2 separate regions of the Homo sapiens genome follow, and region 2 is linked to region 1. Evidence: fine-mapped expression QTL. A gene starts in region 1. The other region holds a variant in brackets. All regions are shown on one strand. Distances are between the middles of the regions.

What was found. PIP is the estimated chance that this variant, and not a neighbour inherited with it, causes the effect. A credible set is the group of variants that fine-mapping cannot tell apart.
Region 2: its variant is the best candidate, but not a certain one, in a credible set for the expression of MTIF2 in neutrophils (BLUEPRINT, PIP 0.75).

Annotation. Positions count from the first base shown.
Region 1 is chr2:55,267,243-55,272,627 of GRCh38, forward strand. MTIF2 (mitochondrial translational initiation factor 2) reads right to left here and starts at 1,989. Exons shown (of 16, transcript NM_002453.3): 1 at 1,927-1,989; 2 at 1,336-1,497; 3 at 327-393. RefSeq lists enhancers at 1,932-2,081, 2,027-2,850.
Region 2 is chr2:55,398,324-55,403,708 of GRCh38, forward strand. The region is part of intron 2 of CCDC88A (coiled-coil domain containing 88A); the gene reads right to left. Among named protein-coding and RNA genes, the nearest start is that of CCDC88A, 19 kb to the right of the region's middle. The variant CATATATATAT/C (reference allele first, on the strand shown) is at 3,176.

The DNA.
Region 1 (5,385 bases):
ACCTGCTGGGTTCAGGGGATTCTCCTGCCTCAGCCTCCCAAGTCGCTGGGATTACAGGTGCCTGCCAGCACACCCGGCTAATTATTTTGTATTTTTAGTAGAGACGGGGTTTCACCGTGTTGGCCAGGCTGGTCTTGAACTCCTGACCTCAGGTGATCTATCCGCCTTGGCCTCCCAAAGTGCTGGGATTACAGGCGTGAGCCACCGCGCCTGGCCTATACTGAATATTTTTTAAAAGAAAGAAAAGAAATGATAACAGAAACAAGTACAGTATAGCAAAGAAAGTATCTTATTAGGCAACAAAGGAACCTTAGGTGGACACTCACTCTGACAGTCAGTGTTATCTGGACTCAGCAAGTCACTTGTTTCCTATGGGCCTCATTTTCCGGATCTCTGTTAAAAATAAATAAATAAATAAGTGTTTGAATATCTGTCCTTCCTATTACAAGACTAAGAGGAGAAAATGAGATGATGTATATACTTTATCATCAGCTATTTTAAAACCATATCACATGTCTTGATACTCGCTTATAAGCTTTGAGGATTCATTGCTTATAAGTTAAAAATATTCACAAGTCATTAACTTGTTTACCTTCGGACAATTATGAGGTTGTGTATGTGTGTGTAATCGAGCAAGCATTTTACCTTAAAAGGCTTATTCGAGTAAAGATCAAGGAAAAATCTAACTTAATGCCAACGAAATAAACACATTAAGATTTAGAAATTCAGGCTGGGCGTGATGGCTCATGCCTGTAATCCTAGCACTTTGGGAGGTCGAGGCGGGCGGATCACCTGAGGTCAGGAGTTCGAGACCAGCCTGGCCAACATGGTGAAACCCCCTCTCTACTAAAAGTACAAAAATTAGCCGGGTACGGTGGCGGGCGCCTGTAATCCCAGCGACTTGGGAGGCTGAGGCAGGAGAATCGCTTGAACCCAGGAGGCAGAGACTGCAGTGAGCCGAGATCAGGCCACTGCACTCCAGCCTGGGCGACAGTGAGACTCTGTCTAAAGAAAAAAAAAAGAAGATTTGGAAATTCATTCAATAGTATTTACACACATTAAATACTTCTAAGAATGGCACATGGAAAATATCTTATTTACGTTTGTGCCCCTGGACCAAGAAGTAGAGTGCTCAGGTAACACAGGATTCCTTGAGAAAATAATTTTTAAATCAGTATGAAACCAGATTTGAGAAGAGCACAGATTAATGGAGTGGGAGGAAGGACCCTACGAGATATTAACCAAAGCACAGATATGTAATTGAGGCAGGAACTGGAAAGACACATTGGAGGCAATAACCCAAATGTCAAAACTGGAAGGAAACTTGTCACTTACTCCAAGCTCCTCATTTTACAGAAAAGGAAACGGAAATCCAGAAGGGTCAAAAAAGCTTCTCCAATGTCATACCGCTAGTTAATGGCAGTCAAGACTAGAACCCAGACGTTCTGACTCCCAGTACGGTGTTGTTTCGCCGCTAGGATATCCTTGTCAAGGAATCTGAAAAAAGTATGTTGCAAATACGTAGTTGCGTTAGGGAAAACGTCTGAATGTGAGCTGGAAGCTTTGGAACTTACCAGAAAGGTAAAAATAAATCACTGCAGAAAAATTACGGATCTGGGGTGGCTCGCCTCAAATTGGAGCCCAGAAGGCCTTGGGCCCATGGGAGGCTGGGAAGTGAGGACCTGCACCCACAGCCGCGCGCGAGGAGGGGAAGCCGGCCAGCCGCTTCCGAGAGAACAGTGCACATGCCTTCGTGAATGCCTAACGTGGGCTCACGCAGGGATTAAATGCATCTTGGAAAGGCTTCCGAACGCACAATGTTTATGAAGTTCGCGTGATTTGTGCCACTGACACGTTAGGCGAAACAACACACACCACCTGCACCGGACAACCCTGGTTAAGGGATCCTACCCACTTAACTCCTACCTACAGCCCCGGGCCCCTGGATTCTGAGCACGGGCGGAGATCACCTTCTGGACCCGGAAGAATGGTCGGTAGGTCAGTCCGTCCCCGCTACGGTCCCCGCCGGGCTTCCGGTCCCGCTGGAAAAGGTTCTTTCCGGAATTCAGAGAGTTGCTGTCGCCGCTGGGGGTGGGACTGTCTGCGGTGTCCGCGGCGGGCGTCCAGCCTGGGAGGCGCTGGTTCAACCTGTGGCTCCTCCCAGGGTCAGCCGCGCGTGGTGAATCGTTTCTGCAGGTCCCTTCCATTTCTTACTTTCCTTTCCTTTCTTTCTCTCTTTCCTTTTTTTCTTTCTGTCCCTCTCCTTTCTTTCCTTCCTTCCTTTCTTCATTTCTTCCTTCCTTTCCTCTTCCTTCCTTTCCGTTTTTCTTTCTCTTTTTTTTTTTTTTAAGAAAACTGCCTTTATTCAATTAGAAGTTGGAAAAATTAACTGGTACAGAAAAAAAGTGTAATCAGCTGGAGAAAAAGTGCCACCCATGAGAACTGATGGCTCCTCTGGGAGGGAATCTGGATACAGTGAGGATTTCTAGGAAGCAAATTACTTCTTCTCTGGGGCTATGAGAGGCCTCGGTGGTGCTTAACACTGTAGGAAACGTTAAATGGAGAATTGTGGGAGAAATGATACCTCCTTCAAAGATACGTGTTCCTAACAAGAAGGAAAAAACAAATGCAAGCGAACAGTGGCGGTAGAACCAGTTAGTATTGTGCGAACAGTACTTTCTGTTTTCTCCTAAGTCAGCTCGTGTGTATGGCATTAGGAGTAATAGAGCCAGAGTGCCTGGTTTCCTATCCCAGCTCATTCCTAGTGTGTGGTTGGGAATGTTTTGTCAACTGTCCATGTCCCAGTTTGTTCATCTACATTATAGTAATGACAGTAGCTAGTTCACAGGATTGTAATAAGGTTTTTGTTGTGTTTTTGTTTCTATTTGTTTTTGAGATGGAGTTTCGCTCTTGTTGCCCAGGCCGGAGTGCAATGGCACGATCTCAGCTCACCGCAACCTCTGCCTCCCGGGTTCAAGCGATTCTCCTGCCTCAGCCTCCCGAGTAGCTGGGATTACAGGCATGTGCCACCACTCCTGGCTAATTTTGTGTTTCTTGTAGAGACAGGGTTTTTCCATGTTGGTCAGGCTGGTCTCGAATTCCCTATTTCAGATGATCCGCCCACATCGGCCTCCCAAAGTGCTGGGATGACAGGCGTTAGCCACCTCTCCCAGACTGTTTTTTGTTTTTTTTGAGACAGTGTCACTCTGTCGCCCAAGCTGGAGCACAATGGCGCGATCTCGGCTCATTGCAACCAAACTCCGCTTCCTGGGTTCAAGTGATTCTCCCGCCTCAGCCTCCCGCGTAGCTGAGATTACAGGGGCACATCACCATGCCTCACTAATTCACCATGTTGGCCAAGCTGGTCTCGAACTCCTGACCTCAGGTGACTGCCCACCTAAGCCTCCCAAAGTGCTGGGATTACAGGCATGAGCCACCACGCCCGGCTGCAATAAGCTTTTAATGGGTTGATAAACTGTTGATAAGTAGTGCCTGGTTCATAGTATGTGTTTGCTGTTATGGTTATTACTGCCTGCCCCCAGAGCTTTCCCTCATCTTGCTTGGACATTATGACTTTCAGCTGGTCGTTTTGACCACAACCATCACCACCTCTCAAATATAAATATTGTTTTATTATCTCTGTCTTTTGGTAAAAGGAATTTGAGAAGAAAACAAAATCAATCAATTAATCTTTGTCTTTAAGATCTACCACTCCCCTGGGTAATTGGTATGGTACAGAAGTTCATTACTCAAAAGCATACTTGCCATTGAGGGAAGAGAGAGACCCTCTCATATTGTTTTATATTGTTTTATACTCAGTACCTGTTTTAAGAGAGAAAAAAGAAGTGAAATCAAAGACAGGCAGTCCGGCGCCAGGCCCAAAACCAGGCCTGGCTCTGCCTGGCCTAAACCCAGTAGTTAAAAATCAACTCAGGCTGGGCGCAGTGGCTCACGCCTGTAATCCCAGCGCTTTGGGAGGCCGAGGCGGGTGGATCACGAAGTCAGGAGATCGAGACCACCCTGGCTAACACGGTGAAACCCCGTCTCTACTAAATATATATTAAAAAAAATTAGCCGGGTGTGGTGGCGGGTGCCTGTAGTCCCAGCTACTTGGGACGTTGAGGCAGGAGAATGGCGTGAACCTGGGAGGCGGAGCTTGCAGTGAGCCGAGATGGCGCCACTGCACTCCAGCCTGGGTGACAGAGCGAGACTCCGTCTCAAAATAAATAAATAAATAAATAAATAAATAAATAAATAAATAAAATAAAAATCAACTCATAACCTAGAAACCGATGTTATTCATAGATTCCAGACATTGTATAGAACATTGTGAAACTCCCTGCCCTGTTCTGTTTGTCTCTGACCACCGGTGCATGCAGCCCCTGTCACGTACCCCTTGCTTGCTCAAATCAATCACGACACTTTCATGTGAAATCTTTAGTGTTGTGAACCCTTAAAAGGGACAGAAATTGTGCACTCAGGGAGCTCGGATTTTAAGGCAGTGGCTTGCCAATGCTCCCAGCTGAATAAAGCCCTTCCTTCTACAACTCGGTGTCTGAGAGGTTTTGTCTGCGGCTCATCCTGCTACACCATCATCTTACCTCCTAACTCATGCCCCCATCCCAACCTACCAACCTCTTTTTTTTCCCCACTTTCCCAATGCCTACTACAAAGGTGTGTAATCGGTGTTACTGAATGATTTAATGCAAACTCCTCTCCTGGACATTTTTTTTTTTTTGAGATGGAGTCTCACTCTGTCACCCAGGCTGGAGTGCAATGGCACGATCTCAGCCCACTGCAACCTCCGCCTCGCAGGTTCAAGCGATTCTCCTGCCTCAGCTTCCAGAGTAGCTGGGATTACAGGTGTCTGCCTCCATGCCCGGCTAATTTTTTTTGTATTTTTAGTACAATTGGCCTGGCCGGTTTTGAACTCCTGACCTGAAGTGATCTGCCCGCCTCAGCCTCCCAAAGTGCTATGATTCCAGGTGTGAGCCAGTGCGCTAGGCCTGGAAATTTTTTTTAACTGAACCTAACAGGCACAACAGTTGAAAACTATTGAAGTTTACTCCAACTGCTATCATTTTACCTACTACTCGCAGATATCTACTGAAGTTTAATTTCTGTGAGAAGTAATTCTTTGCTGTCTTACTTGGCTTGCAAGGCAGTTGAGAAACAAGCAGAAATCAGTTGGTAAACCATCAAAGTAGTTGCCAGATCTTTTTTCCACAATATTAAGGTGAAAATAACCATATATGCATCTATGTTCCTCTAATTTTCTAATCATTAAGATTTTCTAATCATGCTAATGTAGAAAATTCAAGCAATATACCAAAATATAGAAAGTAGCAAAAAAAAAAAGAAAAAAGAAGAGAATGAAAACAGTTA
Region 2 (5,385 bases), 130 kb after region 1:
AAAACAGAACTGAAAAGTTCCTATTTCTTTATAATCATCAGATATTATATCATTATCTATTACTATAAACTATCTGTACTTAGAGCCCAGGATAACCATTAAGCACTCTCGGCATGGATCTAGAAAGCAATAAACTTCCCATTATAAGGCTTGAGTTTCCCATTTGATGCATGCCCAGTTTGAGTAAGGGCCATACTGACACATGTTAGGATCACGGAAAACAGGCCTTTTCACCCTAAGGATGTGATCTCTTTAGGTGAGAGGGACTGCCCTCAGGTGAAACTACCAGAAAAGTCCTAAGCTCCTGGGCTGGCAACGATGGCTTACGCCTGTAATCCCAGCACTTTGGAAGGCCAAAGCAAGAGGATTGTGTAAGCCCAGGAGTTCAAGACTACCCTGGGCAACACAGTGAAACCTCATCTCCACAAAAAAATTTAAAAATGAGGCAGGAAGATTGCTTGAGCCCAGGAGTTTGAGGCTGCAGTGGACTGTGATTATACCATCGCACTCCCACCTGGGTGACAGAGCAAGACCCTGCCTAACAAAAAAAAAAAGAAAGAAAGAAAAGTCCTAAGCTCCACCTCCATGAAAAATGGTTGACTCTTTAAGGGTAATTTATAGAAAATTATGCAAATCAAGAGAATTAGTAGCTTCGGAAAAATAATACCTGGCTTTGCAGTAAATATTATATAGTTATAATAATGTAAATACTGATGACTGATTTAACTAAACCTGTGTTAACTATATTAGAAAGATAGGGTAAGAAGAAATACAGGAGCATAAAAAAGATAAAATCTTATCTACCACTATCAGGAAGTCATAGACAATGTCTAAAAGGAATAAATCAAGAAATACCAGAATAGACACATTATCCCTATATATGGGCTAAATAACAGAAGAAATTGCTTTTAAAAAAGTTTAAAAAGCTGTCACTCTGGGCCAGGCACAGAGGCTCATGCCTGGGAGGTCAAGGCGGGTGGATCATGAGGTCAGGAGTTCAAGACCAGCCTGGCCAAGATGGTGAAACCCCGTCTCTACTAAAAATTAAAAAAAAAATTAGCTGGGCGTGGTGGTGGGTGCCTGTAATCCCAGTTATTCAGGAGGCTGAGGCAGAGAATTGCTTGAGCTGGGAGGCGGAGGTTGCAGTGAGCCGAGATTGCGCCACTGTACTCCAGCCTGGGCGACAGAATGAGACTCTGTCTCAAAAAAAAAAAAAAAAAAGTGGCACTCCAGAGAACTGAACTGAGATATGAGGAGAAATACAGCAGAGAATTTTTGTTTGTCACTGTGAACCTTTTGGTACTAATTAATTTTTTAAGCACGTAAAACATTTTTTAAGGACTTTTTATTGTTTCATGAAACCTATTTCATTTACCTGAGGGAAAAATATTAATAATTGTGTTGGATTGTTACTTAGCTGAAGCACATTTGATAAAGCTATCTCTGCATAGAATTCGATGTCAGGAATTCAGAGTCATAAGACATTTGTGAGACTAAGCATAAACCATAAGAAAAGAAAACAGTATTAAAAATTTCTTCTATAAAAAGAATGCATCCTATATAAAGACAGAAAAAACACTCATTCCTGTGTGTGTGTGTTTTTATCAGCTTCCTCAGGTTGAATCCTGTATTCTATTACTTTTAATATAATAAAAATCACAATACAGTAATTTAAACAAACAGTATGGTATGACTCCAGAATGCTCTAAAAAGAAATGTAGTCTATTAAGTATGACTCACAGAATTCTCTAAAGAGAAAATGTAGTCTATTAAATATTCCAAATATTCTGCCTTTCATTTTAATACTTAAAATGCAAAACAAAAATTAATTCAGAATAATCACAATTAATAAAGTTTTTATCAGGCTCTTTTTGAAAGCATACTATACCATTTTTTTCTAAAGAATGTATCTTTGGAAAGGCCGTTTTCTAAAATAAAAGATGAGCTACTGAACAATATACATGTGACATGTCAAACGTGAGCAAGTACCTTTCCAATCACACACAGCTATTTCCAAGGCAACACAATTTCAAGTCAACCATCTTCTTTATAAGATGAAAACTAAAAAAATGCTTTAGTGACAAATAGCCTAGCAATATGGCTCAAATCTGTCCAACCAGGAGTTAAATGCAACATGGCAGTAAAAGAGGGCCTCAAGCAATTTCACATTTATAAATGATCTACTTATGACAAGTTGCATTAATTTCAATTAAAATAATAAACGGACAGTAGTATTATCAACCACTGTATATAAAAATTTGTAAATCAGGAAAAAAGATGAAGTTAAAGTTAGCAATTTTGCAACGCTAATACTCTGAGATTTGGTCCTTGTATGATCAAGGATTATATCTTTACTTATTCATTAACTAATATATATAAGAAACAGAAATCTGATAGCTTTAATGGCTCTATGCTCTTCTCCTCCAGAATGTAAACCTGTTGTATGTCCTCTTGGACCATCTGTTCTGTGTTGGTGCTTAACTGATGGTGGTTTTTGATCATGGCACTGTAACTTAAAACTATGGTTGTAGTGTGGTCTTTTAATAAATTTTTGAGATAATTTATAAAATAACATAACTATGTAATATTTGCATGTCACTATGATACATCTGAAATAACTAATTTATGTATCTAACTTTAAATGTGCATAAACCAGAATGTTTGCTTTATGAAAAATAATTAACTGGGTAAACAGCACCACCATTAAGGGTTATCCAAGTATCCAAGTAGTAAGGTATTTCAGGAAAATTAATGGCTTTTTTATTTTGCAGCACTGGTCTGAGGGTACATAGAAAATTAGTGGTTTTAAGGGAAAAAATGTATTGGCTAGGGGAGGTGGCTCATACCCATAATCCCAGCACTTTGGGAGGCTGAGGCCAGAGAATTGCTTCAGGCCAGGAGTTTGAGACCAGCCTGTACAACACAGCAAGACTCCTTGTCTACAAAAAAACAAAATTTTAATTAGCTGGGGACAGTGGTGTGTGCCTGCAGTCCTAGCTACGCAGGAGGCTAAGACAGGAGGATCACTTGAGGCCAGGAGTCAGAAGCTTCAGTGAACTATGATCTCACCACTGCATTCCAGCCTGGATGACAGAGAAAGACTCTGTCTCCAAAAAAAAAAAAAATATATATATATATATATACATATGTGTGTGTATGTATGTGTGTGTGTATA[CATATATATAT/C]ATATATATATATATATATATATATATATATTCCTTCAACTTAATTTCTCCCCCCCATAAATTCAAATTCAATTACTTTGCATGACAGCCAACAATAAATCTAATATTAATATAAGCTTTTACCTATCTACAGAATATTTTCACATATATTAACTATCTTGAACTTCACATTGACTGAACAGTCATTCTTGGAGAGGTACATGACATATAATTACCATACAGAGATTACAGACACAGCCTTTCATGTTTTTGTTCTCATAATTTTGGACACATTAAGTTACCTTTTCGAAAGTTGGAAAATCTATGACATTTTCTAGTTAGCCCAAGATTAAGCTAGCAGTAGGGCATGATATTCACTGATTTAACAAACAGAAGTAATGCTTTAATTTAAAAACTGCAAATGGACACAAAAATAATTAAAATCCAGTACTATACATATACTTTACTTTGGTTTCATCTAAACTTAATAAAATGGCTGAACCCACCCTTTATTTCTTTTAGAATAAGTCAACTTAGCCCTTCAAATATTAAGTTAGCAGTTTTTTAACTTTTGGTCTCAGAACCCCTTTTTACTCTTTAAAATTATTGCAGACTCCCAAAGAGCTTTTGTTTATGTGGGTTATAACTATCTATATTTACTATATTAAAATTTAAAATAAAGAATTTTTAAAAATATTAATTCACCTAAATGTAACAGTGTTTGTTAACATAAAGAACATTTTTATAACTTTTCAAAACTTAACATTTTAGTGGGAAATAACATTCTTTCACTTCTTTGCAAATCTCAGTGTTTGGCTTAATAGAATACAGCTGTTTTCTTAAACCTGCTTCTGCATTCGGTGGTTGTGATACATTGTTTTGCTTTAAGTATAAGAAATATGACCGCACACAAGTATGTAATTAGAAAAAGGAAAATTATTTGATTGGCATATTCATACAATTATTGATATTCTTCTTTGATATTACCAAAATTCAGTAAGGGTTATTTCTTAAAGGTTAAGTGCAATATGGAATCTGAAACTCTATCAATGAACTTTTCTTTCTCTGTTTTACATTAAAATCCATTGGTCTATCTGGCACGTTCAATGGATCTTTTAACTATGTATGCATAACTTCTTAACATCGTGCATTGGTCATTTAGAAATTATTGGTTCTTTGAATTATACAGATCTTCCAAATGTCGGCACATTTTATTACTATTTAAAAAAAAAAAAAAACCGGCCAGGCGTGGTGGCTCATGCCTGTAATCCCAGCACTTTGGGAGGCCAAGGCAGGCGGATCACAAGGTCAAGAGATCGAGACCATCCTGGCTAATATGGTGAAACCCCATCTCTACTAAAAATACAAAAAATTAGCCAGGCGTGGTGGTGGGCACCTGTAGTCCCAGTTACTAGGGAGGCTGAGGCAGGAGAATGGCGTGAACCCAGGAGGCAGAGCTTGCAGTGAGCCGAGATCACGCCACTGCACTCCAGCCTGGGCAACTGAGCAAGACTCCGTCTAAAAAAAAAAAACCACATTCATTAATATCACCTCCAATCTCATCAGAAAAGTCTTTAAATATTGAGTAGCTGTCAAGCCCATGTTTTCTATAAATCAAATTTCATCATTGACAACAAATACAATCAGTTGTTTTCCCTGAAGTGACAGGCTCACTTTATTCATTTCTGAGGAACTGTCTGCCCAGTACTCAAGTATTAACAACCAGTTTGTCTGTCATTCTTTCAAGTAAAAATGGTGTTCCAAAAAACAGAGACTACTTCAACCTTGGAACTCAAAAACCATGAGTACTTTTTCTTGAGATAATCATCGCACTTTGTTATGCAAGAACATTATGTATGGTTCCCGTTTTGCCCACAGAATGTTAAAAAGATTCAAGGGTCAAGACCCAACAAAATAACTTTTATTGCTTCATCAAGGACATTTTTAAGTGAAACTGGGTTTATTTATTATACCTTACAAGTGTGTAACGAGAAGAATACAATGATTGCCCACACAATTTGGTACAATTCCTTGATTCATACTAAAATGTCAGCAGTTTTACTTACCTTTGCTTTTGCATCATCAGTGCTTTAGCAACACACGCATAAAAAGGCAAAGGACATCTTAGTATTATTATGAAAATAATTCTGACCTGACAGACAACCTTGAAGGAATCTCTGTGCTAGCAGGGGTCTGATCTCATTTGAGAACTACTGTATTA